2 separate regions of the Homo sapiens genome follow, and region 1 is linked to region 2. Evidence: fine-mapped expression QTL. A gene starts in region 2. The other region holds a variant in brackets. All regions are shown on one strand. Distances are from middle to middle.

Region 1 (4,000 bases), 47 kb after region 2:
TTCTCTTTGCTTTAAATCCTAGTGGACACCTCTGGGCCTTGCTTTACCTTCACGTATTGTAAAAGTTGAGTCAAGCTCAACTTGATTGGTCCTGGCTTCCTGGAGCACAGACTGGAGAAAGCAAATCCATTCGTGCTGAGCAGGAAGCAGGGCTGTGATCAACGGGAGATGTCTCCCCAGGGCGAGGTACTGGTTATTCCCACAAGAGTAACAAGATGGAAAACTGGAGGCAGTGATCCCTGAGGCCCTAACGCTGACCCTTCTGAGCCACCTAGTTCCAATCAGAGCTGCCCCTGCCTTACACTGAGGGCTGCTGAACTGTCTGGCCCTGGCCCTACACTCAGCAACAAGCCTAGAGCCTCACTGGCCCGGCTGAGGCTGCCAAAGTAGCTGCGTGGCATCTGGAATATATGGTAAGCAGCCATCCCAGGCATCTGCAACCGTGGTCTCCCTTCCCTTCTCCCGCCCCCAGCTGCAGGCTGGCTCCCAGGCAGGCCCTACTGGCAGGGTCTGATGCCAGTGGTGGGGTCACCAAAGGTCACCTTGCCCACCTCCCCATTTCCACCATGACCTGCCCTTGCCTCTCTCTGCAGTATGAGTTGAGAGGTCTTCTCCCCCTGCCCTAAGGGCAGTTATCTGATGTCCCTTCTGCCTTCTCCTGACCTTGGGGACCTGACTGACCTATGCCCTATGCATAGGACTTCTCAGCCCCTGACTCAGCCCTGCTCCTCACGCTCCAGCGCCGTGACGGGGAATCAGGCACCCAGCCCAGATGCTGGTCTGGGTTGAGGAGACTTGACTCCAATTCCTTTCTGGCCACTACCTCCTGGGAGACCTCGGCCAGCCCCCACCCCTTTCTCATCTTCCACCTCCATTGAAAGAAGAGGGTTGCTGAAGTCACTTCTAGAGTGTTCATTTCACTAGACTCTAAAATATCCCAAATTCACCCACTTCCCCATGGCCACAGGTCTCTCAGTGGACCCTGCAGCTGCCTTCACCACTCCTCACACCACCAGTCCACAAGCTACCATTTGTTTCCCCCACTGGAGGGTCAGATCCAGCCGCTGCCCTGCCAAAAACCCTTCGCCATCAGATTGGATCCCCTGAGGCCAGCCTCTGCCTTCCTTACCGACCCGATCACTGACTGCACAGCCCTTTCCTTCTCTTAGGATGATTCTGCCACCTAACCCCCCGTGTGTTCCTCGAGCACTCCTAGCTGTTCCCCCGCAGGTCCTTCCTGGACTCTGCAAGGCCCTCCCTCAGGGCCTCCTCCCCCAAGCAGCCTTCCCTGACCACTATATGAAGCAGATCTCTTGCCTTCTCTGCCTGTTCCTGGCTGACCCTGATGATGGTCGGCAATGTCTAGTTCACATCCTTCTCTCCGTGCCTGGTCCAGTGCCTGGGCTGTGCAGGCTCATCGTGCTCTGTGAATGGATGAAGTCAGCACTGGCTGAGGGATGTCAGTTGTACAAGCTCAGTCAGAGCCTCCTCCCCCAGGGAAAGGGACCTGGTCCCATGCCTAAGGGGACCATTGGGACCAGCCAAGGGAGGGAGGCACCTGGTCACCAGGGAGGTGGCAGTTGACTTCCGGGAGGTGGTGGGAAAGATAGTGCAACTGCCCAGTGGGTTCACCTTGCCTGCTGCCTAGAAAGAATGATTTATCAAGACAGGGGAACTGCAATGGAGAAAGAGTAATTCACAGAGAGCCGGTTGTGCAGGAAACCGGACTTTTATTATTTCTCAAATCAGTCTCCCCGAGCATTTGGGGATCAGAGTTTTTAAAGATAATTTGGCGAGTAGAAGCTTGGAAAGTGGGGAGTGCTGATTGGTCAGGCTGGAGATGGAATCATAGGGGGTCGAAGTGAGTTTTTCTTGCTGTCTGAAGTGAGTTTTTCTTGCTGTCTTCTGTTCCTGGGTGCAATGGCAGAACTGACTGAGCCAGATTACCAGTCTGGGTGGTGACAGCTGATCCATGGAGTGCAGGGTCTGCAAAATATCTCAAGCACTGATCTTAGGTTTCACAGTAGTGACATCCCCAATTTGGGGAGGTTCAGACTCTTGGAGCCAGAGGCTGCATGACTCCTAAACTGTAATTTCCAATCTGTAGCTGATTTGTTAGTCCTGCAAAGACATACTGGACCCCAGGCAAGAAGAGGGTCTTTTTGGGAATGGGCTGTTATCAGTTTGTTTCAGAGTCAAACCGTGAACTGAATCCCTTCCCAAAGTTAGTTTGGCCTACACCCAGGAATGAACAAGGACAGTTGAAGGGTTAGAAGCAAGATGGAGTCAGTTAGGTCTGATTTCTTTCGCTGTCATAATTTCCTCAGTTATAATTTTGCAAAGGCGGTTTCAATAGGAGTGGGGAGTGGCAGAGCCTCTTCTGATGGTTCAGGAGGCAGTAGAGAATCTGTGGGAAAAATGGGTACCCTGGAGTGGCGGGTGCCAGGGTTTGAATCCTGCCGCTGTCCCTTCCTCACTGTGTGACTTGGGCAAGTCA[C/T]GTCACCTTAGTTTCCTCATTTGTACAGTGGGAAAACTAATAGGATCAATCAGGAGGAGGTAGTATTAGGATTAAATAAGATCACTCAGCACATGGCACCCAAAAAGACCTGAGGGACGGAGAAGGACAGGCCAGCAAAGCGCTCAGGGAAGAGTGGCCGGGGTAGAGGGAACAGGAAGCGCAGGGCGTGGAGGCAGCACCCGGCCAGAAGGAGCTCAGAGTGCCAGAAGGAGCTTCCCGGCCCTGACCCTGGCAACCCGGAGCCTGGGGCATGTTTCTTCTTATGGAATGGAATGTTTCCTGCTCTAAACCCATTTCCTCTTTTTGTTTTTTGAGACAGAGTTTCACTCTTGTTGCCCAGGCTGGAGTGCAATGGTGCAATCTTGGCTCACTGCAACCTCCGCCTCCTGGGTTCAAGCGATTCTCCTGTCTCAGCATCCCAAGTAGCTGGGATTACAGGTGCCCACCACCACGCCTGGTTAATTTTTTGTATTTTTAGTAGAGATAGGGTTCCACCATGTTGGCCAGGCCTGTCTCAAACCCCTGTCCTCAGGTGATCCGCCCGCCTCAGCCTCCCAAAGTGCTGGGATTACAGGTGTGAGCCACTGCACCCACACCCATTTCCTCTTATGAAATGGGCGTAGTAAACCCCCAGTGTGCTGTGAGGACCTGGGTGCAGGCTTAATGGGCAGTAACTGGGAAAGGCCTGGGAGGGATATTTTTTTTTTGAGACAAAGTCTCATTCTGTTGCCCAGGCTGAAGTGCAGTGGCACAGTCTCAGCTCACTGCAATCTTCACCTCCTGGGTTCAAGCAATTCTCCTGACTCAACCTCCTGAGTAGCTGGGATTACAAGCACCTGCCACCACGCCGGGCTAATTTTTGTATTTTTAGTAGAGACAGAGTTTCACCATGTTGGCCGCACTGGTCTTGAACTTGTGACCTCAACTGATCTGCCCACCTCAGCCTCCCAAAGTGCTGGGATTACAGACCTGAGCCACGGCACCCGGCCGGGATTTTTTTTTTTTTTTTTTTTTTTTTTTAATTCCTGGGTTTGCTGGGCTAGAACTGGCTAGAGAGGGCACAGCAAGAGGCAGGCTTCACCTTGCACTCCCTCCTGTTCGGGTGCCAGGCCATTGTCCCACCCAGTCTTGTCCACCCTGAGCAGGCTTTCAAAGGGATAGAAAAAGAAAGTCTTGCATGTTTGTTTAAGGGGAAAAATGTGGGGCAGGGAGCGGGCGTGCAGCCCAGTGTTAGCGCCAGGGCCCTTTCACAGCTGCACCTGCAGAGCTGGGGCAGGACTGGGCAGGAACCAGGGTCCTGGGGAGAGGTGGGTCTGTGTCTGCTGGACCCAGGTCTGAGGGGGTTTGGGCCCCAGGAAAGGCCAGGAAGGGCATTTGTGTGTTCTGGGGAGCAGCTGCGGAGAGCTCCCCAGAGGGAAGAAGCAGAAGGACTTGAGGCCCAAGCACCTGGTGCTAGTCCTCTGGACATCCCAGCCACTTTTG
Region 2 (4,000 bases):
GTCTTGAATTCCCGACCTCAAGTAATCGCCCGCCTTGGCCTCCCAAAGTGCTGGGATTACAGGTGTGAGCCACCACAACTGGCCAGTAATTCGTACCTTTCTATGGCTGTATAATATTCTATGTTGTGTGGATATACCACATTTTGTTTTTCCATTCATCAGTGGATGAACATTTGCGTGGTTTCCACTTTTTGGCTATTATGAATAATGCTGCTACGTACATTTGTGTATGTTTTGTGTGGCCATATGTTTTCATTTCTCCCGGGTAGATATCTAGGAGTGGAATTGCTGTGACCCCTGGCCTTTGTACTCTGCCTCCTTGGCTAGGGATCTAGTATCTTCCTTGACAGGCCCAACTATCTCATCCTTCAGGTTTCTTAAAGGAAGCCTCGCTGACTCCCATGGCTGAGTTGGGTCTTCTGTGCCACCCTACCTCCAATCTTTGCACATTTCATATGGTGATATGATGGCCTGGGTCCTGATCTTGGCCCCCACAGGTGAGCAACTTGAGAGAGACTATCTGCTTTGGTTCACCACTGTCCATCCCAGTGCCTGGCTCTCCTGCTGCTGGAAAGACAAGAGACAGATTCTGAGGCCAGAGCAATCAGGAAAGTCTTCCTGGAGGAAGCGGGGCTGGAGTTGGGTTGATAGGTTGGTTTGCCCCAGAGCGGGGCAGAGGGCTTTGATTGGCTTCGGTGGAAGAAAGGTGAAGAGAGCTTGGAGAAAGGAAAGATGGATGGGTGACAGGCAGGCAGAGAACAAAGCTCAGAGCCCCGGGGGCTGTTTAGTCTCGGCCCCTGTAAGGCTGCAAAGTGCCAGTGACTCAGACGTGGAGGGAGGCTCACAGGCTGCAGCGCGCGAGGCTCCCACATTAACCCTCACCTGCCTGGAATCGAAAAGCCACAATGGAAGCACTCGGCATTAACCCTCAGCTGCCCAGTCCTTGAGCCCCAGGGCCAAGGGCTGTGGACATGGCCTTGAGATCCCCGGGAAAGCCCCGCCCCCCAGAATCTGGTTACGTGAGGCTCAGCCTTCTGATGCCCGGTGGTGAACTTGCCCAGAGAGCACCTAAATACCGCGGAGTGGCCAAAGGCTTGAGCGCCCAGCGACAGACAAGTGTCCTAAGAATTGGTGCCTCTTCTAGGGAAAAGGAGGCCTGGGCTCCAAGGCCTTAAAGACTCGCCTAATTTTCCGCACGGATGAGTAGACCCAGGCCCAGTTCGGATCCGTCTTTATCTTATCGTCTGTGTCAGAGAAATATGTCATATTTCCAATCTCTGGCGGCAAGAAAATGCCGAGCTCTTTTGCTATTGAAAAAAAAAAGGGAAGAAAACACTGCGGCCCTAATCCTGCCCAATACAACCCAGAACCCAGCCTTGGGTGTTGCCCCGAGGGCGCAGCGCCGCTCCCATCGGCGCTGGGGGTCCAAGCGGCCCTGGGGCCCCGCAGGCCCGGGCTGAGGCCACCCCTCTGTTCCCGCGTCGGTGGCCCTGAGCGCACGGCGCTCGGAACTCGGAGGTGCCAGAGGCTCGGGCAAAGCAGGCCTGGGGAGGGCGCGAAGCCGCGTTGTTCCGATCCTCAGCCACCTGAGTCCCAGCCTGGAACCTTCGGACCCTCGCGTTCGGCCCGAACGTTCGGGCCCCCTCGGTGCCAGGCGCCCCGAGTGCCGCGGCGCGCCGGGCGCGGGCTGGGAGCGGCGGACTGCGGGCGGGACAGCGCCCCCGCTCCTCCCGTGGGAGAGCGCGCGCCCCTCCAGGAAGCTCCCGCCTCGCCTCCCACTTCCCTCCCCACTCCCCTCCTCGGCCGGAGGGAGGAGCCCGAGCCGCCGCCGCCGCCGCCGCCCGCCCGCCCGGCCCGGGAGGAGGACCGGACCCCGAGCGGCTGGGAGCGCACGCGAGCGGGCCGTGGCCGCGCGGGCAGCGCCCTGAGCCTGTCCCGCGCCCGCGGGCCCGGCCGAGCAGGAGCAGCTCCCGGGGATGCCCGGGCGGCTCGGAGCGCGGGCAGCGGCAGCCGTGCGGTGAGGGCGGTGGCGCCCGCGGGACCTGCGGTGAGTGGGGCCCGGGCAGGCGGGGCAGCTTGGCGTGAGTGCCCAACTTCGGCCTTGGGGCTGGGCTCTTTGATCCAGCTGCGGGTCCGAAGGAACCCGGGTTCCGCCTCGGGGGGCTGCGGCGCTCTAGCCCCCGCCGCCAGCGCGAACCCGGACTCCGGCGCTTCGGTGACTCAGCTCCGACCCGGCCACGCGGGGGCGCCCCGCCGGCTCCCGGACTGCGGGGAAGGGCGGGCGGGGTCCCTGGGGAGGGGGGCGCCCTCGGGGGTCCGAGCCCAGCTGCTTTGGGGACCCTTCCACCCGCCCCGAGGGGCTTGGAGGGCGTACGGGAGGTGGAGACCCGCCGCTGCCGCAGCTGCTGAAGGCGTGAGGTCGCCCTGGCTCTCGGCGGGCGCTGGCTCCTCTCCGCTCCCCTCTGCCCTCCTCCCACCCCTCAACACCCACCCCCTGCCCCAGGCAACTGCCGGAGGGCCGGCTCCCAGCCCCGGTACTGGGAGCGCAGAGGGGGAGTGGAGCTGGGCAGCTTCCCAGAAGTCGGAGTGTGTTTGCAAACTAGTTTTTGCGAAAAAGCTGTCTGGCACCTGTGTGTTTAAAGGGGGTGTGGGGGTGGGCATGGAGAGAGCGGGCGAACAAGGCCCTCTCTTATTCCCCGTTTCTCACAGCGATGCTCCTCTGAAAATAGAGGGGTCTTACACCCTCTTCCCTGCTCTTCCCACCCCATCCCCCAGCCTCGCTCCACGTCCCCCCGAGTTCAAGAAGCTCTCCTATGGGGAAGGGGCTGCTTCAAAGGGGGCTGTGATTTGCCCAAGGTCACAGATGCTGCTGGCTCTGGTAGCTAATAGGGTGTTCATCTTGCATCTGAATCCCCTGCCCCATATGTACTGGGGGAAGGGACAAGGGGTCTGGAAGAATGATCTTCCAGACAAAACGCCCTTTTTTTTGTCTGCCTTAGTTTTTTGCTCCCTTAGAGGTGTGTGCTGTCATCAAAGGTTGGGGGGCTTTTTCTGCCCCTTGGGCATCCACAGCTTCACGGACTGCAGGGAGCCCATGGTTTTCAGGAAACAGGCGGTGTGCGCAGATTGTAATCCCTGGCAGCTGCAGCCTGCCCTGATGGGGAGGCCTGGGAGACCTGGGTCTGAACCCCACCTATGACCAACAGGGAACTTGGCCCAGACCCTCCCCCCCTGTGGCCCTCTGGGTCACCATCTGTGAAATGGGCTGATGTTCCGGGGCCTGCCTCCTGGAGAATGGACACAGCATGAAGGCGTGGTTTTATGGCATTCCGCCTGGCATAGGTCCAGGTGAGCTCCAGGACCGCCCCAGCCAGCTGGATTGGAAGGGGTCACCCAGGCAGGTTTCTCCATGGAAAGAACCAGGGACGAAGGATGTGGACGCTTGGGTTCGTTTTGCGGCCGTCACTTCCTGTCTGCGTGCCTTGTCACCCCTTGGACTTGGGGGGTTTTCTGTCTGTAAAATGAGGCAAACTGTGACATGATCCAGCTTACAGTAGGGCGGCTGGGAGGCTGGAACTGGGGAACAGGGAGCAGACGTTCTGCAAGTAGGGAGCACTTCATGAGTGGCAAGTGTGGTGTCTCTGGTGGTGTTCCAACGGACACTCCCTCTGGAATGTCATGAGAATTAAAAACTGGGGCATAAGGGAAGAAGATGGCTGAGAATGGAGCCTCGGTTTCTATGTCTGTAAAACAGTAAGTACTGGACCCCATCTGGTCCTCCTCCCAGTCCTCAGTTTTTATATCTATACACCTTCATATTCTTTTCAGGTAATTGTGTATTTCTGCAAAGGTAGGATTAAATTAGATTGCAAGGACTCGGGTGCCAGCACTTATTGGTACGTGGTGAGTGCCTGGTTAACTGTCATTGTCATTATCCATGGGAATATTAAGAAGCCTGATGTGGGTGACTGCATCCAGGATCCTTTGTGGGGTTGTCTCA

The links. PIP is the estimated chance that this variant, and not a neighbour inherited with it, causes the effect. A credible set is the group of variants that fine-mapping cannot tell apart.
Region 1: its variant is the best candidate, but not a certain one, in a credible set for the expression of CPNE2 in sun-exposed skin (GTEx, PIP 0.90).

Annotation. Positions count from the first base shown.
Region 1 is chr16:57,137,358-57,141,357 of GRCh38, forward strand. All of the region lies in intron 14 of CPNE2 (copine 2), which reads left to right. Among named protein-coding and RNA genes, the nearest start is that of PSME3IP1, 47 kb to the right of the region's middle. The variant C/T (reference allele first, on the strand shown) is at 2,498.
Region 2 is chr16:57,090,744-57,094,743 of GRCh38, forward strand. It overlaps CPNE2 (copine 2), which reads left to right and starts at 1,840. Exons shown (of 16, transcript NM_152727.6): 1 at 1,840-2,047. RefSeq lists silencers at 1,362-1,431, 1,452-1,701, 1,812-1,861, 1,922-2,331.